Homo sapiens: one gene and its partners. The protein of the gene in region 1 purifies or fractionates together with the protein of each later gene. This does not show direct contact. Each region holds a gene or a part of one and is shown in the gene's direction. Other genes may lie near its edges.

Region 1 (9,077 bases):
ACCTCCAGTGTTCTGATGAGACGTGGGTCTTCCTGCTTCACCCTCTCTTAATAGAGTGGCAGAACACAAAACCACCGAGCTGCATTACCCAACTCGCATTGCAATCTCCAAGTCCCTTTGGTTTCAGTGTCATTCTTTTTGATGAGCAGAACAATGACCTCAAGGAGTTGGCACATTTGGCTAGTCTTCCTTTTGTCATCTATGTAATGAATAAACGGTCTGATTCTAAAAAAGTGTCCTTGCATCTTTACCAGTCGAATCAGTCAGGACTTTACCTTAGCCATGCCTTGTCTCATGTGTGCTTGACAGAAACTAAGTGGAGCTGTGGGACCAACATGGTAGTCGTAGGCCGAGTCTCCCCTCAACCTCATCCCCACTCCATAGATAAAAGGCAGAAGAGTGGGAGGGAGGTTTACAGGGAGATGAACAAAAGTAACAATTATATTGAGAGGAGAGTATTGTTTAGTCTTACTCTTTTGGTTACCCCCAGTTCTCGGCCTCTCAATCCACTCCTTCTGACCCACATTGGAAGTTACCTCACTGGTAAGGGATTGACATGGGGCTACCTTTCTTGATTGCATGGAGTTAACCCATTTAAAGTCTCTCCTTCTCTGATCAGTGCAAAGCAGCAATGATGCCCAGCATGCCTGTGCTTTCACCCTAAGCCACGTTCTCTGTAGTCCAGCGAGACTCTGAATTCCAGCCTCCTGACCCCTCTATTTTCTTGGTTGTTTCCAAACTCAGAAAGTGAATAAGGGTATAAATTATTGTGCCCTCTTAAGCCCAAATAAATTCGATTAAAAGAGAAAAAAATTTAAATTTATAAAGGAATATTAAAAGATTTTAACAACAACAAAAATATCCTGAAGCAAAATAATGAGCCAACACAAAATGAGTCAGACTCCAAAGCCAAACAAAAGAATTAAAATTCAACAGAAAAATACTGAAACATAAGATGATATAGTAACATGAAATAAACAATACAAATGGAGGCAGAAAAAGAAAAGTCAGGAGGTTAAGGATTTAATGGGAATTGGGAAAATTAAATAATAATACAAAAAAAATCAAAACACATAGACAAGCCAAAAACATTAAACAATTCTGACGTACAGGGGTTAAAACTTTAACACAAACAAAAAATGAAAAAAACAGAAACAAAGTAACTAGAAACAAATAGTGAACTGAGTCCTTATCAGAATCCTAAGATGGCTCAGACATCCCCAACCCCCAATCCTCACGGCTTTTAGCTCTCCTGGAGGCTGGAGGCCATGTTTTCAGGCAGCACCTAACATGAGGATCCCAGGCTTTTGAATCACTATAACAGAAACCTACAGTCTCCTTGGCGTTTTGCAAACTCTGCGCAAAAACCCTCTTGATTGCTTTGTGTTGTTCTCTGGTTTTACTTCACATACGTCTGGATGGTAAGAATAGAGACCATACCTCCCATGTCTTAATCTGTTTGGGCTGCTATTGAGAGGTGACAGCGTGCTGGCAGTCCTCACAGCCCTCCCTCGCTCTCGGCGCCTCCTCTGCCTGGGCTCCCACTTTGGCGGCACTTGAGGAGCCCTTCAGCCCACCACTGCGCTGTGGGAGCGCCTTCCTGGGCTGGCCGAGGCCGGAGCCGGCTCCCTCAGCTTGCGGGGAGGTGTGGAGGGAGAGGTGCGGGCAGGAACCGGGGCTGCGCGCGGTGCTTGCGGGCCAGCGTGAGTTCCGGGTGGGCGTGGGCCCCGCGGACCTCGCAACTCGGAGCCGCCTGCCGGCCCCACCGGCCCCGGGCAGTTGAGGGGCTTAGCACCTGGGCCAGCAGCTGCCGTGCTCAATTTCTCGCCTGGCCTTAGCTGTCTTCCTGCAGGGCAGGGCTAGGGACCTGCAGCCCGCCATGCCCGAGCCTCCGCGACGAGCGCCGCCCGCTGCTCCACAGCGCCCAGTCCCATCAACCACCCAAGGGCTGAGGAGTGTGGGCTCACGGCGGCGGACTGGCAAGCAGCTCCACCTGTAGCCCTAGTGCGTGATCCACTGGGTGAAGCCAGCTGGGCTCCTGAGTCTGGTGCGGACGTGGAGAACCTTTACGTCTAGCTAAGGGATTGTAAATACACCAATCGGCACTCTGTATCTAGCTCAAGGTTTGTAAACACATCAATCAGCACCCTGTGTCTAGCTCAGGGTTTGTGAATGCACCAATCGACACTCCGTATCTAGCTACTCTGGTGGAGACATGGAGAACCTGTGTGTCTAGCTCAGGGATTGTAAACACACCAATCAGCGCCCTGTCAAAACAGACCACTGGGCTCTACCAATCAGCAGGATGTGGGCGGGGCCAGATAAGAGAATGAAAGCAGGCTGCCAGAGCCAGCAGTGGCAACCCGATTGGGTCCCCTTCCACACTGTGGGAGCTTTTTTTTTCTTTGCAATAAATCCTGCTGCTGCTCACTCTTTGGGTCCTCACTGCCTTTATGAGCTGTAACACTCACTGCAAAGGTCTGCAGCTTCACTCCTGAAGCCAGCGAGACCACAAACCCACTGGGAGGAACAAACAACTCCAGACGTGCCTTAAGAGCTGTAACACTCACTGCGAAGGTTCGCAGCTTCACTCCTGAGCCAGCGAGACCACGAGCCTGCCAGAAGGAAGAAACTCCGAACACATCCGAATATCAGAAGGAACACACTCCGGACACGCCGCCTTTAAGAACTGTAACACTCACCACGAGGGTCCACGGCTTCATTCTTGAAGTCAGTCAGACCAAGAACCCACCAATTCCAGACACACTATAACAAAATACTACAAACTGGGTGGCTTAGAAACGGTAGAAATGTGTTACTCACAGTTCGTGAGGCTGGAAGTCCGAGATCAAGGTGCTAGCAGATACAGTGTCTGGTGAGGGCCTGCTTCCTGGTTCATAGATAGTACCTTCTAGCTGTGTCAGCACATGGTGGAAAGGCAAATAAGCTCCCCTGGGCCTCTTTCATAAGAGCGCTAATCTTTTATAAGGGTGGAGACCTAATGAACTAATCATCTCCCAAAAGGCCCTACGTAATACCATCACTTCAGGGCCTAAGATTTTAACATGAATTTTGGAGGGACACAAACATTGAGACCACAGCACCTTAATTCTTCGATCTCCTCTTCTGGATATCCATTTGGTCACCCAGTAGTTCATTTGATGATGATTTATTGACTCCTTACTCCGTGCATTGTCCAATTACAGTATAAGTGCTGGTGATTCACCACCTACCTGCTGGTGGAGAAAGATGACAAATAATTCTGTCATTACAACTGTGGTAAGTGCTATGAAGGAGAAACACAGAAGCTATGAGAATGACAAACAGGGAATGTCTTGGGAGTCATCAAAGACTTTCTAATGAAAGTGTCTGCATACTGAGGTAGAATTAATTCAGCCATAAGGGAATAGAAGAGCATTTTAGGTAGGAAGAACAGCAGAGGCAAAGACCCTGAGGCAGAAGTGGTAAAGCAGACAGCACGAACTATTCCAGGTACTGGGGCCAGAATACAAGACATTAATGCCAAATGGAGAAGATACCAGTGAGACAAGGACCAGAACCTAGGCCTCAAAGTCACTTTAAATATAGATTAATATATATTAATATGTTAATCAGGTGTCATTTTAGCTCCTTTCAGTTTTATTTCAATTTTATTTTGTGTTAGCTATTTTTATAAGTAATATTATCTCTGAGTCAGAGGAATGTGCTTTTGTTTATTTCTTAGCTAATCCAGGAAAAATCTTGGATTGTTCTGTTGTTCGGGACTGATCATTACAGTAGTTCTCTAACGTATCAGTCTCAGAACACCTTTAGACTCTTAAAAATTAACTTCCCCAAAGGTCTTTTGTTTATGTGGGTTATAGGTATGAATATTTGCTATATTAGAAATTAAAACTGATAAATTTTTAACGTTATTTAAAAAATAATAATCCTATCACATGATAATATGTATGTTTTTATTTAAAATATCTCTATTTTCCAAGAATGAAAAGGGTGGCTGTATTAGTCCGTTCTCGAATCGCTATAAAGAACTACCTGAGACTGGGTAATTTATAAAGAAAAGAGGTTTAATTGGCTCACAGTTCCACAGGCGGTACAGGAAGCATGGCTGGGGAAGCCTCAGGAAGCTGACAATCAAGGTGGAAGGTGAAGGGGAAGCAGACACATCCTACAAGGCTGGAGGAGGAGGAAGAGACAGAGTGGGGAGGTGCCACACACTTTTAAACAACCAGGTCTTATGAGAAGTCACTCACTATCACAAGAACAGCTGGGGATTATAATTCCACATCATATTTGGGCAGGCAATTCAAACATATCAGTGGCATTTACATTTTTGCAAAAATCCAAACCATATCAGTGGCATTTACATTTTTGCAATTTTTTTTTTTTTTTGAGACAGGGCCTCACTCTTGCCCAGGCTGGAGTGCAGTGGCATGATCTCAGCTCACTGCTGCCTCAACCTCCCAGGCTCAAGCAGATCCTCCAACCTTAGCCTCCCAAGCAGCTGAGACTACAGGTGCATGCCACCAAGCCAAAGGGATTTATATTTATCTATAAATTCATATATAAATCAGATATATTTATATAAAATGTGTATATTATATATATAAATCAGATAAATAAATATGTATTTATATCTGATCTTAAAAGAGTAAAAGGGATTTATATTCCCAGGAAGAAGTAGAAAAGAGGAATATAGATAGTGGTTAAGAACCGGCATTTTGCAATAAGTCTGATCTAGATAGGAATTCTAGCTTTAATATTTACTAGCTCTGTGATCTTGGGAAAATTATTTACAGTTTGTGAACTTCAGTTTCCCTTCTACAAAATAGAGACAGTACCATTTAATTTTTAATTTTTAATGGTATCGTCTCCATTTTATGGAAGGAAAACTAAATGGTATTTTAACCGACAATTCATTAATTTTTAAGACTGACCATTAACAGAGATACTGCATGTAAAGCAGATCACACAGAATATGGCACACTTGAGCACTTGATGTGTACTACATTACTCTTAGTGACGACTTTAATTATCGTGCGCATTCCCAGCGCTTCCTATGGTGCCCAACACAGAGCGGACGCCTAGAGACAATTTTGGGGGATGGGGCAGATGCTCTGCCTCGGGAAAAAAAAAGCACACCTGCCCTGACGTTGGTGGCTGGGTCTGGAAGATACGTGGAAATTAAGCTAAGGATGTGTGGCTTCCAGATCAAAAACCGCAAAAATCTAACGCCGTGACTACTGACTACGGTCAGAGAGCACAGACTGGAGCAACCTCTCACGGCCTGGGCTGTCTGCGCGTGCGTGAGCCAGAAACCCGAGGGGCTCCCTGGGCCCGCCCTATCGATCGACCCGATCGGGGATCGTCAGCTTGGTTCTGGCCACAGAGGTTGCTCTTCTCGCGATGCTTCAGACCTGGCGGCAGGGAAAGGGTGGGCTAATTGGAGAGCCAGGAAGAGCGTGAGGCGGCCCCACGCTGCTTTCCCAGAAGGCTGTGCGTGCTCCTCGCTTCCTCCGCGGTCTTCCGAGCGGTCGCGTGAACTGCTTCCTGCAGGCTGGCCATGGCGCTTCACGTTCCCAAGGCTCCGGGCTTTGCCCAGATGCTCAAGGAGGGAGCGAAAGTAAGGGCTGAAGGAAAGGAATGAGGTGGGAGCGTCAGCATAGGGCTGCGGCGGCCGCGGCGAAGTAGGAGGGCCTACTAACGGGCTGAGCGTGCTGCCCTGGCTCAGCGGCCGGGGGAAGAGAAGATTCCAGAAAGGGAGGTGATTTTGGAAGGGCTCGGCCACCGGAGCCTGCGGGCACTTCTCTTCTTCCGCGACCGGGAGAAGGCCGAGGGATCGGCGGCACGATCGACATTGTACACCTTGAAGGTGGACGGATGTGAAGCCGCGCGTGCGTTTTGCCTCCATCCGTAAATGGGGCTAAGGCCCGTCACCCTTAAAGGAGGTTGTGAGGGTGAAATTGAATAACGTAGATGAAATTGTCTTGAGAACTGCGACGTCGATTATCACATAGCTCGCGAGTTGTAGGATGGGGAAGAACGAGAACTAGCCGATCCAGAGAAGAGAGTGGGAAAAAGGGCCGGGTCTTGGTTGCTTGCTTCCCAGTGAGAAACATACGGCTTTCAGCTTAGTTGACAGAAGCCATGCGTTGTAGCCAAATGAGTTCCGGTCCCAACTTATGTTAGCTGGCTTAATCTAAAATGTAACTTTCTTGGGTTTTGTTTCCTTCGTCTTTAAATTATGGAGATTGGACCAAGAGGTGGTGTCTTTGAGTTCTGTGTAATCTGCAGGATAAGTGATAGAGGGGTGCAGATAACACTTTTGTTTAATGGCCTTTTCTTGAACGTTAGTTCGGTAGCATAGTTTTAAAAAATATCTTACTGCACTATTGATAAATTTGTCTCTTGTGCTATTCAAATTGCATTCCTCTGTGTGTCCTCCAGATTTTGTTAATTCAAGAAATAGATCAGTGTGGTTGAATTTAAGGTTTTATGCGAGGTACGGGGAGCATTAACAGTTTAATAGAACTAGGTTCATGTTTGTAGGATGCACTTTTCAAATAATGTCGGTATAGTAAGTAAATGTCAGGGTTCAAGGTAAATGTTGGTGGAATAATCTTTTGAAAATGATATGGGCTGATTCCCTTGAAAAAATCAGGCTGAGATAATAGCTTCCAATTTGGGTTTTTTTCACTAATACAGTTTTGGAAAACTCGTGTATCACAAAACATTATTTGTCATTCCAGTGCTAGTAGTTTTTTACAGAACACTGAGCTATTTCTTTCAATAAATAGGTACTGAAGGAACTGCAGTGAAAGACAAAAGTCCCATTTGTCGTAGAGTTTATGTCCTTCTAAGGCAGAAATAATGATTAAATAAAAGGAGAATTCCAAATAATGATGAAAGAAACTGCACTATAGTAGAGGATGACAGGAGGTAAAAATGTCTGTAAAAGAAGGATCAGGAATAGACAGAACACTTAGACGTTTAGGGAAGAACTCTTAGCTCAGTGCTTAGTGAGAGAAGCCCCTGAGCCTGGGCTGTTTCCCCCGACCTCTTACTTAGGGGGAAATGCCAGGCTCAGGGACTAACTAGTACAAAGACCCTGAGGAAGGAATGATTTTGACCTGTTTTTTTTTTAAAACAACAACAACAACAACAGGTTGTAGGGCTGAAGCTTACCAAAGAAAGGAAGAATGGTAAGTTCAGAGGAGGAGCCATACAAGGGCCGGGATACGTAGGGCCTTGTTTCCTTGAAAAGGGATTTGCATTTTATCCTAAGCTGGTTGGGAAACCATTGAAGGGTCTTAAGTATGGGAATGAGGGGATCTGATCAAATGGTAGTTTCTCACAGAATGGGGAGTGAGGGGAAGAAGCAAGAGTGTAAGCCAGGAGTTCAGACTTAAGTGTTATTGCTGGAATAACAGTTCTTATTGCTGAAGATGCTTTTAAAGCAGTGGCTATTGGCAGGGGTTGGTGGCTCACACCTGTAATCCCAACACTGGGGAGGCCGAGGTCAGTGGATCACTTGAGGCCAGGAGTTCCTGGCCAACATGGTGAAACTCCGCCTCTCAAAAAAATACAAAAAAAACCAACCTGGTGTGGCGCGCACCTCTAATCCCAGCTACTCAGGAGGCTGAGCCTCCAGAATTGCTTGAACCCGGGAGGCCCAGGTTGCAGTGAGCTGAGATCGTGCCACGATCTCAGCTCACTGCACTCCAGCCTGAGCGATAGAGGAGACTCTCTCTCTCTCAAAAAAGAGTAATGGCTATTAACCTTGGTTTTGGATCACAAAATCATGGCTTGTATTGTAAAGCAGTACTATGTAAATAGAACTTTTTGCAGTGCTGGACATACGCTGTATCAGCGCTGTCCAGTGTGATATTCACTACCCACATGTAGCTACTGGGCATTTGAACTGTGGCTCCTGCAATTGAGGAACTGAATTTTTTAATTTTAATTACTTGAAAGTTTATTTTGATTGCTTTCACTAGCCCCATGTATGTAGCTAGTGGCTACTGTATTGGGCAGCGCTTCTCTAAAGAAATGTTCTCATGCACAGTAGATTAGTGAAATATATCTGAGGACCCAAGTAAACCTCAACTCTAAAAAAGTCCAGTGTAGAATTTGTGAGAATTTTTAGTACCGTGAGCAGTTCGCTTTTCAATACATATACATTGGGATAATGTTGCAATTCAAAAAAAGTATTCAGTCTCTAAACACTTCAGTGGCACATACTTAAAGAACTTCTGGCTTTACAAAAGCCCAGATTCTAACACAATAAGAATATTCCACATTTCAACAGTTAGTTAGAAAATACTGATAAATTCTGGAAAGGTATTCTACTTGAAGTACCTCATACCCTTTCTCTAATTAGTCTTAGCATGGTTCCCTGTACTTTTCACTACTTTTAATAAAAAAAATTTTAAGTCTTTTGATGTGTAAGTAGGTACCTGCGGTCCCCCAAAATGTTATACTTTATTCATTCAACTAGAGAGGAAATGTATGCATCATTTATGAATATCAAATGCTGTGTTTTACATTAAAAAATCTTGTTTGATTGTCTCAACAATCCTATGAGTTAGGTACTATTATAATTACTTCATTTTATAATGAAGAAATGTTAAGAAAATTGCCCAAATTTAAAAAGAGCCAGAAAGCTAAGATTTGCAACCAGCCCTCTTGTGCCAAATACCTAAGCTATGCTCCCTCTTTATTAGAGGCAAGATATAAGCAAAGATATCTTGTATTTGAAATTTTTGTTTCACTGTCCTGTCTAATTAGCGGGGTTTTTTGTTTGTTTTTTTTAACAGCACTTTTCAGGATTAGAAGAGGCTGTGTATAGAAACATACAAGCTTGCAAGGAGCTTGCCCAAACCACTCGTACAGCATATGGACCAAATGGTAATTTCTAAATTAATATTTGTAAAGATACAGTAGTAGAATATTGTGTACTACGTCTTCTTTCAGACTTGTTCTGAGGATGTTATGGTATGACTTCGGAAGTTAATTTGATAGCTCAATGATAGTTCATTTCCAATTTTTAGTTATTTCTAATTTTCAATCAACTCACA
Region 2 (4,738 bases), on another chromosome or scaffold:
GCGCCCGGCTAGTAGCTTTTATTTATTTTTTTTGAGACAGAGTTTCACTCTTCTTGCCCAGGCTGGAGTGCAATCACGTGATCTCGGCTCACTGCAACCTCTGCCCCCCAGGTTCAAGTGATTCTCCTGCCTCAGCCTCCCTAGTAGCTGGGATTACAGGCATGTGCCAACATGCCTGGCTAATTTTTTTGTATTTTTAGTAGAGACAGGGTTTCTCCATGTGGTCAGGCTGGTCTCAAACTCCTGACCTCAGGTGATCCACCCGCCTCAGCCTCCCAAAGTGCTGGGATTACAGGCGTGAGCCACTGCGCCTGGCCAGCTTTTAAATTAAATTAAAATTTTATTTAATTCTGCCTGTTAGCTCGGAAGGATGTGGTTTTTGTTTGATTGTTTGTTTTTTTGAGATGGAGTTTTGCTCTTTCGCTCAGGCTGGAGTGCAGTGGTGCGATCTTGGTTCACTGGAACCTCCACCTTCTGGTTTCAAGCAATTCTCCTGCCTCAGCGTCTCAGGTAGCTGGGATTACAGGCGCCCACCACCACGCTTGGCTAATTTTTGTATTTTTAGTAGGGACAGGTTTTCACCATGTTGGCCAGGCTGGTCTTGAACTCCTGACCTCGTGATCTGCCCGCCACAGCCTCCCAAAGTGCTGAGATTACAGATGTGAGCCACCGCGCCCGGCTGTGTTTTTAAATTCCTTTCTACCTGTTAAACATGGAGGTATCAAAATACATACCCACACAGAACGTGAAGGAGAACCTCAGCCCAGAGGCATTCTTGCCAAGTGAAACTCTTTATCTCTTTATTGAAATAATATTTCCAACTATGCTTTACCAGAAAGACATTTTTAAACATGACTTTATATACTGTACCACTAAGATACTCATCTGGCGGCCGGGTGCGGTGGCTCATGCCTGTAATCCCAGCACTTTGGGAGGCCAAGGCGGGTGGATTGCCTGAGGTCAGGAGTTGGAAACCAGCCTGGCCAACATAGTGAAACCCTGTCTCTACTGAAAATACAAAAAATTAGCTGGGCGTGGTGGCGGGCACTTATAATTCCAGCTACTCGGAGGCTGAGGCAGGAGAATCACTTGACCTGGGAGGCAGAGGTTGCAGTGAGCCAAGATCATGCCATTGCACTCCAGCCTGGGTAACGAGCGAAACTCTATCTCAAAAAAAAAAAAAAAAAGATATTCAGCTGGGGAAAGTATAAATATACAAACATACATAAACACACACATATAGGAGATACATCAGTTACATATTCCAGTGTTCAAAGGCGTACAGCATTTCAAACTAAATACATGTTTGCATCTTATTTTGACCTTTTTTGAATGTACCATGAGGGGAGAGAGAAGTGTGCAATTGTTTTTATTTCTAAAAAAAAGTCTTGAAGTCTAGTGAACTTACATATAACGATTGCTTTGTGTAAGTGAACAGTAACATTAAACACTTATGTACGTATGTGTGGATATATAAAGATATATATATAGAGAGAGATATATATATTTTTTTAATTTTTGAGACAGGGTCTTGCTCTGTCACCCAGGCTGGAGTGCAGTAGCACTATCTTGGCTCACTCCAGCCTCAGCCTCCCGGGTTCAAGCAATTCTCGTGCCTCAGCCTCCTGAGTAGCTGGGACTACAGGCATGTGCCACCATGCCTGGCTAAGTTTTGTATTTTTAGTAGAGACGGTTTCACCGTGTTGCCTAGGCTGGTTGTGAACTCCTGACCTCAAGTGATAAGTGATCCACCTGCCTCAGCCTCCCAAAGTTCTGGGATCACAGGCCTGAGCCACCACATCTGGCTGGATATAAATTCTTGAGTCAGGAATCTGAAGTCTTGTTTTTTTTTTTTTTTAAGAAACAGGTTGAATTTATATAACATTCAACCAAAGTACCTAGAGCCGAAAATACTGGTGTTACTCATCTTCGTGGAACACTTTTTTTTTTTTTACCCAGCATGACTGAGGTATGATGACCAAAACAATTGAATATATTTAAGATATACAACATGGAGATTTAATAGAGGTACAATGTGAAATGATTACCACAATCCAAGTAATTAACCATCCATCATTTCACATAGCTGCCCTCACTGTGGTGAGAATCCTTAAGATCTACTTTCCTAGCAAATTTCAAGTATACAATACGTTATTATTCACTGTAGTTACCATGTTCTACATTAGGTCTTCAGAACTTACCATCTTATAACTGAAAGTTTGTATCCTTGGCCAACATCTCCCATTTCCACTCCTCCCCTGATAACCACCATTCTATTCTCTGTTTCATGGAACACTTTAAGTTAATAAGTAAAATTCAACTGAGCACGTTGGCTGAAGCCTGTAATCCTAGCATGTTGGGAAGCTAAGGCTGGAGGATTGCATGAGGCCAGGAGTTTGAGACCAGCCTGGGCAACATAGCGAGATCCCATGTCTACAAAAAAGAAAGTAGCCAGGTGTGGTGGTGCACACCTGTAGTCTCAGCTGCTAGGGAGATGGGCGGGAGGATCATTTGAACCCAGGAGTTCAAGGTTACAGTGAGCTATGATTGCACCCATAGCACTCTAGCCTGGGTGATGGAGTGAGAGCCTGTCTCCAAAAAAGTAGATTAAGATAAGACTTCAGTAAAATTGGTTTTCAGATTTTTTTTATTTTGAGACAGTCTCGCTGTGTCGCCCAGGCTGGAGTGCAATGGCGCGATCTCGGCTCACTGCAAGCTCCGCCTCCCACGTTCACACCATTCTCCAGCCTCAGCCTCCCGAGTAGCTGGGACTACAGGCACCTGCCACCATGCCTGGCTAATTTTTTGTATTTTTAGTAGAGACGGGGTTTCACCGTGTTAGCCAGGATGGTCTCGATCTCCAGACTTCGTGATCCGCCCACCTTGGCCTCCCAAAGTGCTGGGATTACAGGCATGTGCCACCGCGCCCGGCCTGGTTTTCAGATTTTAATCGATGTGTCCAGTTAGCAGAACTCTCTGCCTTGATGTTCCTTTAAGCGAAGCCATTTGTTGTAGAATCTCTTACGTAGTCCTTTGGTTCTGCCTGGGCTCTTCTCTGAAGTAGGCAAATACATCACTTGATTTTGCTTCACTTGGTCTCAGACCACAAGAATTTTGCTGATTTTAAGAGTGAAGTATTGGAGCTGAGTCTTCAGTTACTGATTCTTTATTATCTGGTGCTTTTTTGATTAGTTGGAACAAATGTGTAAGTTCTAGGGTATCACCATACATTTATTCTTTGACCCCAATAGATTGAGATACTGGACATGAGGCTGAAGAGTTTATTAAAATTGGATTTAATGATTAGATTGCCAGAAGGTCTGTGGAAATTATTTCCTTCAAATTTTTCATGCTGATTTCCTTCCTGGGAAATTGTAGTCATCAGAGGATAGGTTTATTCTTTGTATTTTTGAGACAGGGTCTCGCTCTGTCGTGTAGGCTGGAGTGCAGTGACATGATCATGGTTCACTGCAGCCTTGAACTCCTGGGCTCAAGCGATCCTGCCACTTCAGCCTCCCAAACAGCTGGGATTATAAGCACACACCACCACTGTACCCAGTGAATTTTTATGTTTTATTTACTTTTATTTTTATTGTTGAGACAGTCTCACTGCTGCCCAGGCTGGAGTGCAGTGGTGTGATCTTAAATGTCTGCAACCTCTACCTCCCAGGCTCAGGTGATCCTCCTGCCTCAGCCTCCCAAAGTGTTGGGATTACAGGCGTGAGCCATTGTGCTGGGCCAAATTTCGATAATTGTATTTTCTACTTAGAAAAAACTAGGTTGATGGACTTAGGGCGAGGGAACCTTTGCAGCACAGTGCCTTAGGCAATTTGCTTTTTCTTTACCATATAGAGTTGGAATGGAAACTGTCTGAATCTGGAGCAATTATGACAGACCTGGAGGAAAACCCTAAGAAGCCGATTGAAGACGTGTTGCTGTCCTCAGTGCGGCGCTCTGTCCTCATGAAGAGGGACAGCGATTCCGAGGGTGACTGAGGCTACAGCTTCTATCACATGCCGAACTTTCTTGTGACAAATTGTCTGGATTTTTTAAAAAAGGAAAAAGCAAGAATGAATCCTTGTGGTTTTTAGTTTTGTATAAATTATGTTTCAAATCTTTACATTTTGGAAATAATCATTGCTGGAGATTCTGTTAAATATTTTGGAACTCTTTTTTTTTTTAAATTATAGTATTTCCTCTAAAAAAAATTAAAACCAGCCATTTGTATGGCAAATGTCTGTTTTCCTCATTTATATTTTAAGTAAGCCATAAAACCTAGTCACTATTTTTTGACATATAACTATAAAAAGAAATACAGTTTTAAATGTGAATAAATTATACAGTGGAAAATTGCAGACTAAGCCTTATAGATACATTGTTTATTTTTATTTTATAAAGAGAGCAGTGAGATTATTAAACTACAGGAATGGTCTCTAGGACAAAAGAATGTTAGTATTGAAGAAACAGACAATTTTTGTGAAACATTCCCTTATTGAAGCAATAACTGAAAGTTTCCAGTTTACTGCCATATTTGGTTAAATGTGTTTTCTTGTTAAAATAGTTTATCTCAGACTGTTAACTAATTTTTTTTTTTTTTTGAGATGGAGCTTTTCTGTGTTGCTGAGGCTGGAGTGCAGTGGCACAATCTCAGCTCACTGCAACCTCCACCTCCCGGGTTCAAGCAATTCTCCTGCCTCAGCCTCCTGAGGAGCTGGGATTACAGACGTGCACCATCACG
Region 3 (8,347 bases), on another chromosome or scaffold:
GGCTGGTCTTGAACTCCTGACCTCGTGATCCACCCGCTTCAGCCTCCCAAAGGGCTGGGATTACAGGCGTGAGCCATCGCGCCCGGCATATTTTTATATATTTTAAACTTTGCTTGTAAATTTAAATATTTTAAAAATATGTTTGTATCTCAATTTATTTATATTTTATTTCATTTTCCATATATTTTGTAGGCATAAAACAGATTTATGTTTTAAAATGTTTGTATCCTTTTAAATTAGACGCACCTTTATATGATTACAGGTACTTAAACTTCACGAGTGGGTTGTGCAAGGTTACTAGAAAAGACACTGGGGGAAAAATAAGTGATTCCATTTGTTTTTGTGAATTCAAATTAAATATTTGGTTTGTACAATCTGTTTTCCTTTTTTGGGGGGGCGGGGGGGGGGCGGGTAAGAATTGTAGTCCAGATACGTTTCTCTCTTAATTTAGCAAGCGTTAACAAGTTGACCTCCTCCTTGCCAGGCACCAGCAATCCTAAGATAAGACACAGTCTCTTCACTCAAGGAGCTCCCAGTCTAAACAAGTGTCTTTCAGGCTTTTTCAGCCTCCTCTCTGTCCTATGTTCAGCACACATTCTATCAGTACTTCTTCATCCTACAGAAGCATATTTAGTTTGACAGTGCCCCCAAGGGATTCTTAAATATTCTAGGTTTTTCAGCTCCTTCCCAGATCCAGACCTGTTGAAAGACTTGTCCAGAGCAGACTTGAATTTTCTAGTAAATAATTATTTTTAATCTTCAAAGAAAATTTTGTCCACCTGGATTTTCAGTGATATTAGATGCTAGTTAGTGATATTTTGTAAAGCTGCCTAGCAAGAATAACTATGGTTAGTGTTTTTAGTGTCAAATGAACGTGTAAGTAAAAATTTGGCAAGAATTTCTCTGCATTAGGGGAAAACATTCAGCAGGACCTGATCTCATTTTAAAATGCTGATTGTAGCCCCACAACATATTCCTGATTGTTTTTTCTTTTTTACTGTATTAAATCGCAGATCAGCTATACACACTTCTGGTGACTACATTTTATGAGTTGCTTTTTGTTTTTCTTTTTTAGGTGGGCGTATTATTGATAAGTTTTTTTTGTTTTTTGTTTTTTTGAGACGGAGTTTTGCGCTTGTCACCCAGGCTGGAGTGCGGTGGGGTGATGTTGGCTCACTGCAACCTCTGCCCCTGCAGGTCCAAGCGATTATTCTGCCTCAGCTTCCCAAGTAGCTGGGACTACAGCATGCCACCACGCCCCGGCTAATTTTGTATTTTTAGTAGTTTCACCATGTTGGCCTGGCTGGTCTCGAACTTTCCATCCTCAAGTGATCCACCCGCCTCGGCCTCCCAAAGTGCTGGGATTACAGGCATGTGCCACCGCGCCTGACCTTGATATGATATTTTCAAAGAGTCCTTTAGGTCATTTTAATACAAACATGCCATTTAATGTAAAACAGAAATATTGATTTTATTATTTGGACGGTGCATATTCTTTCGGTATGTTTTCTTGGATTAACTTTTGCTTAGAACTAAAAACCAAAGACTTCTACTTTATCCCCTGTAGTGACCCTGTTGGCCACATTCTTGTGGCTTACCATAGTGTTTTGATCATTTAAATTGAAGCTAGTTTGTATGAGTATTCTGGAAAATCCGGTAAAAGCTTCTTACTTAGATGAGTGGTTCTCAAAGAGGGGTGGGAAATGGGAGTATAGCAGAATCATCTGGGGAACTTCATTCAAACTATAAGTGCTAAGTTTATTTTGGAGGAAGTGAAGTGGAATGAGTAGAATCTAATGCATTTGGGAGGAGGTTAGTATGGAAAACTGCTGCTGGGTGAATAAGAGTGCCAGCTCTGTTCCCAACCACAGTCTTGATCCAGGTATTTAAAAACTGGGATGTGCCAGTTGATATAGTATGTCTATTATGTGTCATATATGTGATAATATGAAACTGTTTAGAATTTGCTTTTTCCTGATTATGAAAGGGCAGCATTCTTTCAAGAAGTCCCCTGTAATTCCACAATCCAGAGATAACCGTTGTTGAAATTTTGATATATTTTTGTTTAAAGATACTTAACATACTTTGTAAAATTCACATGCTTTACATCATTAGAATATTCTTTACATAGCTTTATGAGTTAATTTTTCATGTAGTATTACATCATGAACATTTTCCCTTGTCATTGAAATGTCTTCAAAAATACCGAAAAGCGATTTGCTGTGTGATAGAAAAGTTTTTCTTAAAGTATTTTTTAACATATTACCACGAAGCTGAACTTGACTATTACAATATGAGTTGTAGAATATTAGCACTGTGTAAAGTTCCATAGCAAAATGTGATTGTGTTACATTTTTGGCCCACTTACAGTTTTATGAAAATCGTGGGATGTGTTTGTACCTGTTTTGTTTTTTAAATTCATTTTTCATTTAACTTTGACCTGTCAGATGTCTGAATTTGTGACACTGCTTGTGATCTCTTAGTGCGTATCTCCCTTTTCTTTCTTGTGAAACAGGTATAGTACTCTTAAGATTTAGTTAGGCTGACAGACTACACTTTTAACTTTTCCTATTCAAGACAGGCTGGAATGCAGTGGCTTGATCATGGCTCACTGCAGCCTCGACTTCCTGGTCTCAATCGATCCTTCTGCCTCAACCTCCCTAGTGGATGGGACCACAGGCACATGACACCTTGGCTGGCTAATTTTTTTTATTTTGGTAGAGACGGGGTCTCCCTATGTTGGTTGCCCAGTCTGGTCTTGAACCCTTGTGCTCAAGCAATCCTCCAGCCTTGGCTTCCCAAAGTGTTGGGATTACAGGTGCGAGGTGCTGCGCCCAGCCTGTAGTGTCCTTTTGAAGGTTAAAAAAAATGAATGGATTTGAAAAATGAAATCGATTAATGAAAGCATATTAAAGCCCTCCATTTTAAAATGACAGCTTTATCCAGATATAATTCACATACCATACAGTTTGCCTATTTAGAGGATATGATTTTTAGTATACTATAGAGTTGTGCAGCCATCACCACAGTGAACTGTATAATATTTTCAAACACATATACCCCCCAAAAAACCCTGTTCCCGGTAGCAGACACCCCATTTCTCTCCATTCCCTCCCGGCCCCCACTAATCTACTTTTTTTTGTCTCTTAGATTTGCCTATTCTGGACGTTTCATGCAAGTGAAATCATACAATATGTTGTCTTTTGTGACTGGTTTCTTTTAATGTTTTTAACATTCATCTTTGTTGTAGTATGTATCAGTACTTTATTCCTTTTATGGCTGAATAATATTCCATTGTATGTATACACCACATTTTTAATTCATTCATCAGTTGATGGACATTTTGTTTTCTTTCGGCTATTGTGAATACTTGTAGTGCTGCTATCAACATTTGTGTAGAAGTTTTTTTTTGTGGGCATATACTTTCAATTCCGTTGGGTATATAGCTGGGAGTGAGATTTCTAGGTCATATGGTAGCCCTATGTTTAACTTTTTGATGAGCTGCCAGGTTGTTTAAGGCCTCTTTACTGATTAAATTGTTTAATTCTGACCCAGCAACCTAAAGGTTAGGTGGTTGGAAAGAAGTGTCAGTTGTTGCCGACAACCTCCACTTCTGTAGGGAAGGTGTTTTGTGTGGATGTGCAGCTAGACTTGTTAGAAAAAAGAGCATGTTGGGGAGTGGGGGAGATCACCCGAGGAATATTTTATCTCCTTGATTCTTCTGGATGAGATACTAGAGGAGACATAAGGTCGTGGCATATTTTTTAACTGATTCAGAGATTAGGTGTTTGTTTTCTCTGAATTAAGTTCAGCAAGTAAGGGAAACTGACAGTTTGAAGAAGTAGCCCAGAGGTGTTTTTATTTTGCTATCTGAATGCAGACCTGGAGCTTTTCTGGTAAATATCTAAATCCAAGATGAAGATTCGTTGGGATTTAATACATTATTTAAATTGAGTCTAGAGACAAAGCCACATTAAGAGTCAGGATTAGTGGGGAAGATAGTTGCATCTAGTAGGTCTTTTTCTTCCTTATTCTCCACGTTTATTACTTTTAAAAGAGTATACATTCCAATGCCATGCATTTTTAATTTTTTTTAATTAATTTTTTTTTTTTTTGGAGGCAGGGTCTGGCTCTGTCACCCGGTTGGAGTGCAGTGGCATGAACATGGCTCACCTGCAGCCTCAACCTTCTGGGCTCAAGTGATCCTTCTACCTCAGCCTCACAAGTAGCTGGGACCACAGGCATGCACCACTAATTAAAAAAAATTGGTAGACACAGAATCTTACTTTGTTGCCCAGGCCAGTCTCAGAGTTCTGGGATTACAGGCACCCAGCCCCATTTTCAAACATTTCTAACAGGTAAAGTAATACAGGTATGAAGGAATGTTAAGATTCTTAGAAATACTGACTTAAATTCTGTTATGTATTTCTGAAAGGTTATTCTCGAATGTTGGTGGCATATAGGGAGGCAAGGGGAAGAAATAGTTTGTAAATGTCAGTAGGTTTAGCAGTGGTGTGGTAGATGGGGATTCCCAGTGGAGTCTTCTAGGATTTGTGATTGGATACAGATTGATACCCTTAGGCAGCAGCCACTGCTTCTAGCAGCTTTAAATAGCCATTTCAAGGCTTATTCAAGTATAAATAACCAGTAGCCAGTTTTTTCCTGATTTGATAGAGGAAGTCAGTCCTTGGTCTAGATGGGTACTTGTCATACAGTAGGAAAAAGGGCGGGGGCAGTTGTCCTTTATTCTGCCTCTGCACTATTCACATGTGGAGCACAGTGATTTGTGAGAGTATGTATAACCTTCGTGAACATCACTGGCCTCAGAACCCTCCCTTGCCAAATTTACCTGCATCTGTGCAAAGACAAGTGGAGATATTGATGATATGTGCATATCCCAGAGGGAATAGCGTTTGCTTTTTGATGCATGCCCACCCTTGCATAATTGGGAGGTTTTAACATAGCATATTTCACCATAAAGGAATTTTATTCTAAGAATGTTAATCAGAATATCCCTAAGTAACAGAAGTTCCCATCTGGTCAGTTGCAAGGTGACCAAAACACTTTCTTGGTTTGAGTATAGTCATATGTTCTGTCAAATGATGTTTTGGTCAACAGTGGACTTCATGTAAGGTAGTTAGTGGTCCTGTAAGATTAGAATGGAACTGAGAAATTCCTGTCACTTAGTGACATCATAGGCATAATGTCATAGTGCAATGCATTACTCTTGTTTGTGGTAGTGCTGGTGTAAACCTATTGCACTGCCAGTTGTGTAAAAGTACAACAGGCCACGCGTGGTGGCTCATGCCTGTAGTCCCAGCACTTTGGGAGGCCAAGGCAGGTGGACCACTTGAGGTCAGGAGTTCGAGACCAGCCTGGCCAACATGGTGAAACCCCATCTCTACTAAAAATACAAAAATTAGCTGGGCTTGGTGGCATGCATATGCCTGTAATCCCAGTTACTCAGGAGGCTGAGGCAGGAGAATCACTTGAACCTGGGAGGTGGAGGTTGCAGTGAGCAAAGATTGCACCACTGCTCTCCAGCCTGGGCGAAAGAGTGAGACTGCATCTCCAAAAAAAAAAAAAAAAAAAAAAAAAAGTATAACACAATTATATAGAGTACATAATACTTGATAATGGTAATAAACAGCTATGTTATATATTTACCTTTTTTTTTTCTTTTTTTTGAGACAGAGTTTCGCTCTTGTTGCCCAGGCTGGAGTGCAGTGACGCGATCTCAGTTCACCACAACCTCTGCCTCTCAGGTTCAAGTGATTCTCCTGCCTCAGCCTCCTGAGTAGCTGGGATTATAGGCGTGCACCACCACACCTGGCTAATTTTTTGTATTTTTAGTAGAGACGGGGTTTCACCGTGTTAGCCAGGATGGTATTGATCTCCCGACCTCAGGTGATCCGCCTGCCTCGGCCTCCCAAAGTGTTGGGATTACAGGCTTGAGTCACTACGCAGGGCCCTGGAATATATTCTTATTTTAAAAAACTAGTTAAAACCGACTCAGGCATGTCCTTCAGGTGGCATTCCAGGAAAAAAAGCTTCGTTATCCTGGGAGGTGATGGCTCCATGCATGTTACTGCCCCTGAAGACCTTCCAGTGAAGATGTGGAGGCGGAATATAGTGTTACTGATGATCCTGACTCTGTAGGCCTAGGCTAATGTGTGTGTATATGGCTTAGTTTTTAACAAAAGTTTAAAAAGTGAAAAATATTTTTAAAAATAGGAAAAGGCTTAATAGGATAAGGATATAAAGAAAATATTGTACAGCTGTATGATATGCTTTTGTTTTAAGCTAATCGTTACTAGAAAATTCAAAATGTTTAAAAATTTTTTTAAGTTTCTAAAGTAAAAAATGTTAAGTAAGCAAAGGTTAATTTATTCTTGAAGAAAGAAAAATATTTTTATCTTTATTACTGTATATACATTGTGCCTTTTCTGTGTTTAGATATGTTTAGATATACAAGCACATTGTGTTACAGTAGCCTGCAGTATTCAGTACAGTAACATACTGTGCATCATGCTTTGTAGCCTAAGAGCAATAGACTATACCATCTAGGTTTGTGTAAGTCCACTCTGTGATGTTTGCACAACAACAAAATCACCTCACTGTGCATCTCTCAGGAAGTTTCCCTTTGGTAAATGATGCATAACTGGACTTGTCTGACACCATTTTAACCTTCCCCCTAGTCCTACCTCTCATTCTCAAGATTTGGAGAAATCAAAATCTAAGTTTTCATAATAAAAGGTTAGGTATATTGGGTGTTACATAGCTTTCACTAATGTCATATCTAGCAGTTGTAATCACGTATTTTAAAACTTTAAATAGTAAATTAAGAAGGAATCTTTATAGGTACTTGTATGTTTCCTCAATGTGGTTTGAATTGAGCGTTTTATTTAAATTACTATCAAATACTTGAGCCAAACTAGCGAGACAAAAAGACCAGACCTTTTCTTTTTTCCGAGATGGAGTCTCACACTGTTGTCCAGGCTGGAGTGCAGTGGTGCAGTCTCGGCTCACTGCAGCCTCCGCCTCCTGGGTTCTAGCGATTCTCCTGCCTCAGCCTCCTGAGTAGCTGGGATTACAGGCGCCTGCCACCATGCCCAGCTAATTTTCTGTATTTTTAGTAGTAGAGATGGGATTTCACTAAATCTCGAACACCTGACCTTGTGATTTGCCCACCTTGGCCTCCCAAATTGCTGGGATTACTGGGGTGAGCCACCGCGCCCGGCCGAGACCAGACTTCTGAGGGGGAGAAACTTGCAAACCTGTCAGTGAGAAAGAGTGAGGTCTGATTTTAGATGACAGAAAGGAATAGCTTTTGTGAATTTCGGACTCCCAACTACTAGAATTATGTGAATCCTGAATGATAATCAGATGTTTACTCAGTTAAGTGTTTACTCAAATATTAATAAGTATTGATACATTGGGATGCCATCTTATATAATGATTAACGACACAGATTCTGGGTGTATTTCAGCCCCAGTTTCTTCTGCATATATGATAGTAAGTGCCTTCAAACAATTCTTGACACATTAAAGGTCAGAAAATGTTAGCCGTCATTATTGCTTAGTACAAACCTGAGCTAGGAAATACTAACAGAGAGCTCTTTGTGCCACTGAGTCCTGGAACTTCCCCATACTAATTTTGAGAAGGCTTTCTTGTAAGTATGTGACAGATACTGTTTCCTCCACTTTCTGTTTATTGCATATAACCACTATTCTTGTATGTAAGTACGTATAACAGTTTCTTTACTATTCCCATTATTCAGCGTTTATAATCTGGTTTGACATATCAGTGTTGGTGCTGAGAGGGAAAGGTATTTCTAGGTAGGATAAAATGGTGAAAAGTGATTTAACACTGTTGTATGCTTGCTTTTGGCCAGGAACTATAGGGCAGTGTATCTTAAACTTTGAGTCTTGAGACCCTCTTACACTCAAATTCTCCATATATGTAAAGAATTGAAAACGAGCTTTTATTTATGTGAGGTATTTAACAATATTGCATTAGAAGTTAAAACTGAGAATTTAAAAATTTCTGTTCTCGGCCGGGCATGGTAGCTCACACGTGTAATCTCAGCACTTTGGGAGGCCGAGGCGGGTGGAATTGCTTGAGGCCAGGAGTTCAAGACCAGCCTGGGCAACATGGTGAAACCCCATCTCCTAAAAATATAAAAAAGTTAGCTGGGCGTGATGTCACATGCCTGTATTCCCAGCTACTTGGGAGGCTGAGGCACAAGAATTGCTTGAATCTGGGAGGCAGAGGTTGCAGTGAGCTGAGATTGCGCCACTGCACTCCAGCCTGGGCGACAGAGTGAGACTGTGTCTCTAAATAAATA
Region 4 (8,347 bases), on another chromosome or scaffold:
GGTGTTTCACCATGTTGGCCAGGCTGGTCTCGAACTCCTGGCCTCAGGTGATCTGCCCACCTCAGCCTTCCAAAGCGCTGGGATTCCAGGCGTGAGCCACCATGCCCGGCCTGATTTGTAACTATTCTACCTGCACTTAGGTTTGGTTTCTTTCTCCGTGTGCTTATTTCAAAATTCCAAAAGGAAAGGGAGAGAGTGAGAGGGAAAAAGATAAAAGAGAAATGGGAAGTACCGGGGCAAAGATGAGAGGGTGGCGGGGAGAGGTCAGGTCCCCAAGGGCACCGCTAGCATGAGCAGGGGCTCAATGTACCCTCTACCTGATCCCTTCCACCCGCCAGCATCAGCAGCAGGTGCTCCAGGCCGTAGAACGCGCCAAGCAGGTCACCGTGGGGGAGCTGAACAGCCTCATCGGGGTGAGTCTCTCTAGCCCCTGCCCCGCCATGGGGAGACGCCCACTCCCAGGTCCCTGGCACCCACCCAGGAGGTGTTAAAGCTGGGGTGGTGTGTGGGCCTTGGCTCCAGTGGTCCTGGGAACCCCAGGGGCACATGCTGTGCTTAGGTCCCATCCCCTGTGTCTACCTCTTGGGCTGGGGACCGCTGGGCTCCTGCCGCCCCCCGCCCCGGCCCATCCTGCCTCCTTTCTAGCAGCAGCAGCTCCAGCCGCTGTCCCACCACGCACCCCCTGTGCCCCTCACCCCCCGCCCAGCCGGGCTGGTGGGCGGCAGTGCTACGGGGCTGCTTGCTCTGTCTGGAGCCCTGGCTGCCCAGGCTCAGCTGGCGGCGGCTGTCAAGGAGGACCGTGCGGGCGTGGAGGCCGAGGGGTCCAGAGGTGAGTGGGCAGCACGGGGTGGCATTGGCTGGGGAGACGGGGCTGGGGAGGACGACTGGCAGTCCAGGGTAGCAAACATCAGCGTGAGGGGATGAAGTGGCTCATGCCTATAATCCCAACAATTTGGGAGGCCGAGGCGGGAGGATCGCTTGAGCCCAGGAGTTCATGACCAGCCTGGGCAACAGAGCGAGACCCCGTCTCTACAAAAATTTAAAAATTTGCTGGGTGGGATGGTGCACACCTGTATTCCCAGGTACTTAGGAGGCCGAGGCAGGAGGATCACTTGAGGCCGGGAGTTAGAGGCCAGCCCAAGCAACATAGCAAGACGCCATCTCTATGAAAAATTTAAAAATTAGTCAAGCACAGGCTGGGCATGGTGGCTTATGCCTGTAATCCCAGCACTTTGGGAGGCCGAGGTGGCTGGATCACCTGAGGCCAGGAGTTCGAGAGCAGCCTGGCCAACATGGGAAAACCCCATCTCTACTAAAAATACAAAAAAAATTAGGCAGGAGTGGTGGCGGGTGCCTGTAATCTCAGCTACTCGGGAGGCTGAGGCAGGAGAATCGCTTGAACCTGGGAGGCGGAGGTTGCAGTGAGCCAAGATTGTGCCACTGTACTCCAGCCTGAGTGAGAGAGTGAGACTCTGTCTCAAAAAAATTAAAATAAATAAATAAATAAATAAAAATAGATAGCCAGGCACGGTGGTTCACGCCTGTAATCCCAGCACTCTGGGAGACCGAGGCGGGCAGATCACCTGAGGTCAGGAGTTTGAGACCAGCCTGGTCAACGTGGTGAAACCTTGTCTCTACTAAAAATACAAAAATTAGCTGGGCATGGTGGTGGGTGCCTGTAATCTGAGCTACTCGGGAGGCTGAGGCAAGAGAATTGCTTGAACCTGGGAGGCAGAGGTTGCAGTGAGCCAAGTCCAGCCTGGGCGACAGAGTGAGACTCTGTCTCATTCATAAATAAATAAATAAATAAATAAATGCCAAGCATGGTGGCATGCCCCTGGAGTCCCAGCTACTCGGGAGGCTGAGATGGGACAATCACTTGAGCCCGGGAACTCGAGGCTGCAGTGAACTGTGACTGGGCCACTGCACTCCAGCCTGGGCAACAGAGCAAGACCCCAACTCGTAAAGTGTGAGGGGATCAATGAGAGCGGCTGCAAGGCCCTGGGGTTCAACATCACCCCCAATGGGCTGTGTGTCTTGAGGCAAGTCACTATCCCTCTCTGGGCATTGATCTGAATGCAGGGGAGGGATAATCCACCACTTGCAAGGGTGTTGGAAGGGTAGAGAGACTCTGAGTGGGGTGGTGGGGGCGGGGGGCTTTATAAACTGGAGGGCTGTACCCTCTGGCGCCGTGGATACAAACGCCTCATTCTTTCTCCTTCTTTCTCTTTATCCCATTCCCAATCTGTCAGTGGAGAGAGCCCCGAGCAGGGTAAGTGAGTGGCACCCTGGGACTCTTTTTATATTCTTGGGAGGCCAACGCTGGTTCTGAGCTGATGGGGGCCTCAGAATGAGACCTAGGTCGATCATGGTGGCTCACGCCTTTGATCCCAGCACTTTGGTAGGCAGAGGTAGGAGAATCATTTGAGGCCAGGAGTTTGAGACCAGCTGAGCAACATGGCAAAACCCCGTCTCTACAGAAAAATACAAAAAGTTGGCTGGGTGTGGTGGTCCATGCCTGTTGTGTCAGCTACTCGGGAGCCTGAGGTGGGAGGATCACTTGAGCCCAGAAGGCCAAGGCTGAAGGGAGCTGTGATCGTGCCACTGCACTCCAACCTGGGTGACAGAGTAAGACCCTGTCTCAAAAAAAAAAAAAAAAGAAAGAAAGAAAAAAAAAAACCAGGCCAGGTGCGTGCCTGTAATCCCAGCACTTTGGGAGGCCAAGGTGGGCAGATCACTTGAGGCCAGGAGTTCAAAAGCAGCCTGGCCAACATGGCAAAACCCTGTCTCTACTAAAAATTCAAAAATTAGCCAAACGTGGCGGCGGGTGCCTGTAATCCCAGCTACTCGGGAGGTCAAGGCAGGAGAATCACTTGGACCTGGGAGACAGAGGTTGCAGTGAGCCGAGATTGCACCACCGCACTCCAGCCTGTGCGACAGTATGAGACTCTGTCTCAAAAAACAAACAACAGCAACCACAACAATAAAAAAACAAGATCCATAGCCCGGTTTCCTGAAGCCTTTCTGTGTGGGAGATACCCAGAAGGCTGTAGTGTTTAAAACCCCAGTACTTTGGGAGGCCAAGGTGGGTGGATCACTTGAGGTCAGGAGTTCGAGACCAGCTTGGCCAACATGGCGAAACCATATCTCTACTAAAAATACAAAATTAGCTGGGTGTGGTGGTGGGCGCCTGTAATCCCAGCTACTCTGGAGGCTGAGGCAGAAGAATGGCGTGAACCCGGGAGGCGGAGGTTGCAGTGAGCCGAGATTGCGCCACTGCACTCCAGCTTGGGCGACAGAGCGAGACTCCATCTCAAAAGAAAAAAAAATTTCAACCTCCAGCTTTTTTCGGGTAATTAAATAAATGAATGCATGACCTTGGACCCTTCTTCCCATCCTCACTTCCGTTCGCCTAGCCATCAGCCGTTCAGCAATATCTGTGGGTGCTCCCCAACAGAAATGTCATGTGAGCTGTGTCAGTAAGTTTTTCAAAAAATGGTTTAATTTTTTTTTTTTTTTTTTGAGACTGAGTCTTGCCCTGTCGCCCAGGCTGGAGCGCAGTGGTGCAATCTCGGCTCACTGTAAGCTCCGCCTCCTGGGTTCAAGTGATTCTCCTGCCTCAGTCTCCCAAGTAGCTGGGACTACAAGTGCCCGCCACCATGCCCGGCTAATTTTTTTTTTTTTTTTTTTTTGTATTTTTAGTAGAGACGGGGTTTCACCGTGTTAGCCAGGATGGTCTCAATCTCCTGACCTTGTGATCCGCCCGCCTCGGCCTCCCAAAGTGCTGGGATTATAGGCGTGAGCCACTGCGCCCGGCCAAAATGGTTTAATTTTGAAATAATTATAGATGTCAGAGAGGTTGCAGAAGAAGTAAGGCGCTGGTTGCGGTGGCTCATGCCTGTAATCCCAGCACTTTGGGAGGCCGAGGCAGGTGGATCACCTGAGGTCAGGAGTTCGAGATAGGCCTGGCCAACATGGCGAAACCCTGTCTCTATTAAAAATACAAAAATTAGCTGGGCGTGGTGGTGGCGCCTGTAATCCCAGCTACTGGGGAGGCTGAGGCAGGAGGATCGCTTGAACCCGGGAGGCGGGGGTCTCAGTGGGCCGAGATGGCTCCACTGCACTCCAGCCTGGGCAGCAGAGCAAGACTCCGTCAAAAACAAAACAAAACAGAAGAGAGAACAAAACCTTAGCACTGAGTCAGCCGTTGGAAGCTCCCATTTCCCAGATGGGAAGCTTGAGGTCCGGACCCTAATAATGGTGGGGGACCCTCAGTCTCGGCTGGATCACAATGCAATCTAGGAGCCCAGGGCCCTGACCCTTTCTCCCCCCGGCCTTTGTCTCTCCGCAGAGTGCATCTCCCTCGCCCCCTGAGAGTCTCGTGGAGGAGGAGCGACCGAGTGGCCCTGGTGGTGGCGGGAAGCAGAGAGCAGATGAGAAGGAGCCATCAGGACCTTATGTGAGTGGGGGCAGGTGCAGGACTGGGATGGGCGTGCATGGCCCAGACCAGCCTGGCCCCTCAGAGCCTTCCAGAGCCCAGCTCTGGCCATAATTCTCTCACTCCGGAGCCTCCCATAGCTCCCTACTACTCAGAGTACTGACCAATCAGAGGAGATCCTGTAATGCAAGGCTTAACTCCAGTTGCTTGAAGTCTCTGCGGCCTCTTGGCCGTACAGCCATTTTCCCACCCTCTAGCTTTTGCTCCAGCTGTTTTCTTTCCCTAGAACACACATGTTTTAGAAACCCATTTTTCTATCAAGAAACAAAGTGCCACCTCCTACAAGAAGCCTTCCCTGACCACCTCCTAGAGGCTGGGACCTCCTCTCATTGCCAGACGGCTGCACACTTGTAGTTTCCAACTCTAGCATCCCAGGGGCCAGGCCGAATGTGGGGAATGGGGCTGTGGCCAGCTGGGGAGCCCCTTCTCCCACCTACAGGGGCAGCTGCAACTTGATCCCCGGAGACTGGCAGGCTCAGGGTGGGCCAATATTGCTGTTTCTCAGAGAAGCCTTAAATCTTCCTTTTTACCTAATAGCTTTTTTTTTTTTTTTTTGGCAATGAATTTTATTTATTTATTTATTTATTTATTAAGGTGGAGTCTTATTTTCTTTGGCAATGAATTTTATTTATTTATTTATTAAGGCGGAGTCTTTATGAAGGCGGTAAGGATGATTGCTGGTCTCTGGCTCTCCCCTCACCATGCAGAGGGGTAAACTGAGGCCTGAGAGGGCCGGGAGTCACACAGGGCACTCATGTAGTCCACATCCTTCAAAGTCCTCTCCACAAGGTGCCCACCTGCCCTGCCTCCCCACATCCTTCCCGGATGCGGGCACGTGCAGCCTTCCCTTCTGCTATGAGCAAACGGGTGCAGTGGTCTGAGAATCCCAGTCATGCCCCAGGGCTGGCTGGGCTCATGCCTCCAACTCCTGAGGAGCGGATAGGGGGTGTGGAGGCAGGGGCATGACCACAATGAGCTCTCTCCCCCATCTTCCCCCAGGAAAGCGACGAAGACAAGAGTGATTACAATCTGGTGGTGGACGAGGTGAGTCCAGGGGTCCAGCCTCTTCCCCGACTCTGGGCACAGAGCAAGGGGTGGGTTTTCTGGACTGGGAGGACCCAGAGGTAGTGGGGATCCTGGTTCCCCGCTCTGTGGGACAGCTGGGATGGGGTCAGGAAGCGTCAGGGACTCCGGGACACCTCTGGCCGACCTCCTCTCCACTGCACAGGGAGTGACTTCAAGCCCAGGTTCACTGAGTGATTTGTGGGCAGTGACACCCCCTTCCCTGGCCTCACTTTTCCCCATCTGTTCAATGGGAAAATAAAACCAAGCCTTTATATAGTCCTCGCTATGGGTGCTTATGGAGTAGAGCCTATCATTAAACCCATTTTACAGGCCGGGCGTGGTGGCTCACACCTGTGATCCCAGCACTTTGGGAGGCTGAGGCGAATGGATCACTTGAGGTCAGGAGTTTGAGACCAGCCTGACCAACATGGTGAAACCTTGTCTCTACTAAAAATACAAAAAAATTAGCTGGATGTGCTCGCTTGAACCCAGGAGGCGGAGGTTGCAGTGGGCCATTACTCCAGCCTGGGTAACGGAGCGAGACTCAAAAAAAAAAAAAATACATTTTACAGATGAGTAAACTGAGGCAGCAGAAGATTTCATAATCTTCCCATGGTGGGTCATGGGTACCCATTCTAGAGATTGGGGTGGGAGTCGGGAGGAGGATAGAGAAGGGACTCTTCTTTCCCTCTCATTTCAACTCTGCTCAACGTCACCTCCTCAAACCCAGGACCAACCCTCAGAGCCCCCCAGCCCGGCTACCACCCCCTGCGGAAAGGTACCCATCTGCATTCCTGCCCGTCGGGACCTGGTGGACAGTCCAGCCTCCTTGGCCTCTAGCCTTGGCTCACCGCTGCCTAGAGCCAAGGAGCTCATCCTGGTAAGGAGGAGGGGAGGGCCTTGAAACTCACTTTATTCATCCCGGGGGCCCCGAAGCAGACGCTACCCCATGATGCAGAGGGCAGTGATGAGAAATCAGCCAGCCGGGCTGGCATTGTCCACCCTTTCCCTGTGCTTTTTTTTTTAAACCTCCTGCTTGGACTGACTTTGTTGAACCTCAGTAAATATTAAAAGGCAACTTTGTAAAGAAGCTTTGTAGATAAATTTTAAAAGGCAATTCACTACCTTACATGGAAAGCAGGTCTCTCTCTTGCAATCAATAGGAAATCCCATGGAAATAAACATAGTGAAAGCCCAGCCAGCTAGGCTGGACTCAGGCCTGCATGTGTTGAGCCCTTCCAGAGGCGCTTAGAGACACACCGGCCCCAAGCTGAGATGTTGTCCCCGGAAGGAAAGATAATTAATATAGGAACAAGTTTTCAGTTGGACCTCCTGGAGTTTAATGCCAGGCATGTGAGCCATCTAAAAGCACCCCCAGGGCATTAGAAATTCAGCTCCTTTTGCAGCTCCCCTCACCCCAAATCTTCTCCAGACCCCTCCCCTACACTTACCAGGGAAGAGTATGTCGGTTTCTAGGCCTCCCCTCCCGGTTTCAAGGCCTCCCTTCCTGGCAGGTTACCATGGCAACCGCCAGAGGTTGGGGCTCCCATTCCATCTTAAGTGCCCACCTCCCACTGCGGGAAAAACCTTACAAGGGGATGGGTCAGCTCCGTTGTATTGGAGAAGCCCTCAGGGGTCCTCCCTGACCCCACAGTCGTCCCATCCACTCTCTCGCGGGTGCCGGTGTTGCGTGGCTGTCACTGTTTGTGCGATGGTGTCATGGGAAGCCGAGACAGACGCAAGACAAGGATGCGAAGTTTCTTGGGAGGCAGGGGAGGCAGGGGAGGCGATGACATGAAGCCGAGATAACAGAGCCTGCCCCTAGATGGAGGTCCAGCTGCTGCTTTCCTCAGAGCTCTCCTTGGGGAGGGACAGCTCTGGGTGACACCTCCCTCTCTGTGGGGGCTCAAGGAGGATTGCAGTGTGTGCTAGGCACTCTTCCTTCACCTGGGAATATGCCGCTGTGGGGTCTGCCTCTCCACGAGCCCATCCCGGAGTTTCTAATTCCTTGTTGTTCAAGAATCTCAACAGTGGCTGGGTGCTGTGGCTCATCCCTGTCATCCCAGGGCTTTGGGAGGCCAAGGCAGGACGATCACTCGAGAACAGGAGTTGGAGACCAGCCTGGGCAACATAGTGAGACCTTGTCTCTATGAAAAATTTAAAAAGTTAGCCGGGCATGGAGTCGTGTGCCTGTAGTGCCAGCTACTTGGGAGGCTCAGTCGGGAGGATCACTCGAGCATGGGAGGTTGAGGCTGCAGTGAGCTATGATCGTGCCTTTTGTTTGTTTTTCGTTTTGGAGATGGAGTCTCGCTCTGTCACCCAGGGAGGAGTGTGGTGGCGCAATCTTGGCTCACTGCAACCACTGCCTCCCAGGTTCAAGAGATTCTCCTGCCTCAGCCTCCCGGGTAGTGGGTAGCTGGGACTACAGGCACGTGCCACCACGCCTGGCTAATTTTTTGTATTTTTAGTAGAGACGAGGTTTCACTGTGTTAGCCAGGATGGTCTAGATCTCCTGATCTCAGGTGATCCGCCCACCTTGGCCTCCTAAAGTGCTGGGATTACAGGCGTGAGCCACAGCGCCTGTCTGATCATGTTAGTTTTGAGAGCAAGACCCTGTATTAAAAAAAAAAAGAATTGCAAATCTTGACAGCCTATAACTTTGTAACTTTGTTGCCTTTTTTTTGTTTTGTTTTTTGTTTTTGTAGAGTTTTGCTTTTGTTGCCCAGGCTAGAGTGCAATGGCGTGATCTCGGCTCACTGCAACCTCTGCCTCCCGGGTTCAAGC

The links.
Region 2: the proteins of CCT8 (region 1) and PDCL3 purify together in Homo sapiens (affinity purification with mass spectrometry; 3 studies listed by BioGRID and IntAct, with this or other methods). This does not show direct contact.
Region 3: the proteins of CCT8 (region 1) and PPP1CB purify together in Homo sapiens (affinity purification with mass spectrometry; 2 studies listed by BioGRID and IntAct, with this or other methods). This does not show direct contact.
Region 4: the proteins of CCT8 (region 1) and TLE2 purify together in Homo sapiens (affinity purification with mass spectrometry; 3 studies listed by BioGRID and IntAct, with this or other methods). This does not show direct contact.

The regions. Positions count from the first base shown.
Region 1 is NC_000021.9:29,070,077-29,079,153, reverse strand, and holds the start of CCT8 (T-complex protein 1 subunit theta), read left to right. Parts: upstream 1-5,505; 5' UTR 5,506-5,563; coding exon 5,564-5,623; exon of another isoform or gene 5,624-7,199; coding exon of another isoform or gene 7,200-7,202; intron 7,203-8,816; coding exon 8,817-8,907; intron 8,908-9,077. UniProt on the Homo sapiens protein: Component of the chaperonin-containing T-complex (TRiC), a molecular chaperone complex that assists the folding of actin, tubulin and other proteins upon ATP hydrolysis.
Region 2 is NC_000002.12:100,572,502-100,577,239, forward strand, and holds the end of PDCL3 (phosducin-like protein 3), read left to right. Parts: intron 1-3,852; coding exon 3,853-3,995; 3' UTR 3,996-4,238; downstream 4,239-4,738. UniProt on the Homo sapiens protein: Acts as a chaperone for the angiogenic VEGF receptor KDR/VEGFR2, increasing its abundance by inhibiting its ubiquitination and degradation.
Region 3 is NC_000002.12:28,753,948-28,762,294, forward strand, and holds part of PPP1CB (serine/threonine-protein phosphatase PP1-beta catalytic subunit), read left to right. Parts: intron 1-8,347. UniProt on the Homo sapiens protein: Protein phosphatase that associates with over 200 regulatory proteins to form highly specific holoenzymes which dephosphorylate hundreds of biological targets.
Region 4 is NC_000019.10:3,011,765-3,020,111, reverse strand, and holds part of TLE2 (transducin-like enhancer protein 2), read left to right. Parts: intron 1-338; coding exon 339-413; intron 414-645; coding exon of another isoform or gene 646-648; coding exon 649-829; intron 830-2,252; coding exon 2,253-2,272; intron 2,273-4,351; coding exon 4,352-4,459; intron 4,460-5,497; coding exon 5,498-5,542; intron 5,543-6,293; coding exon 6,294-6,443; intron 6,444-8,347.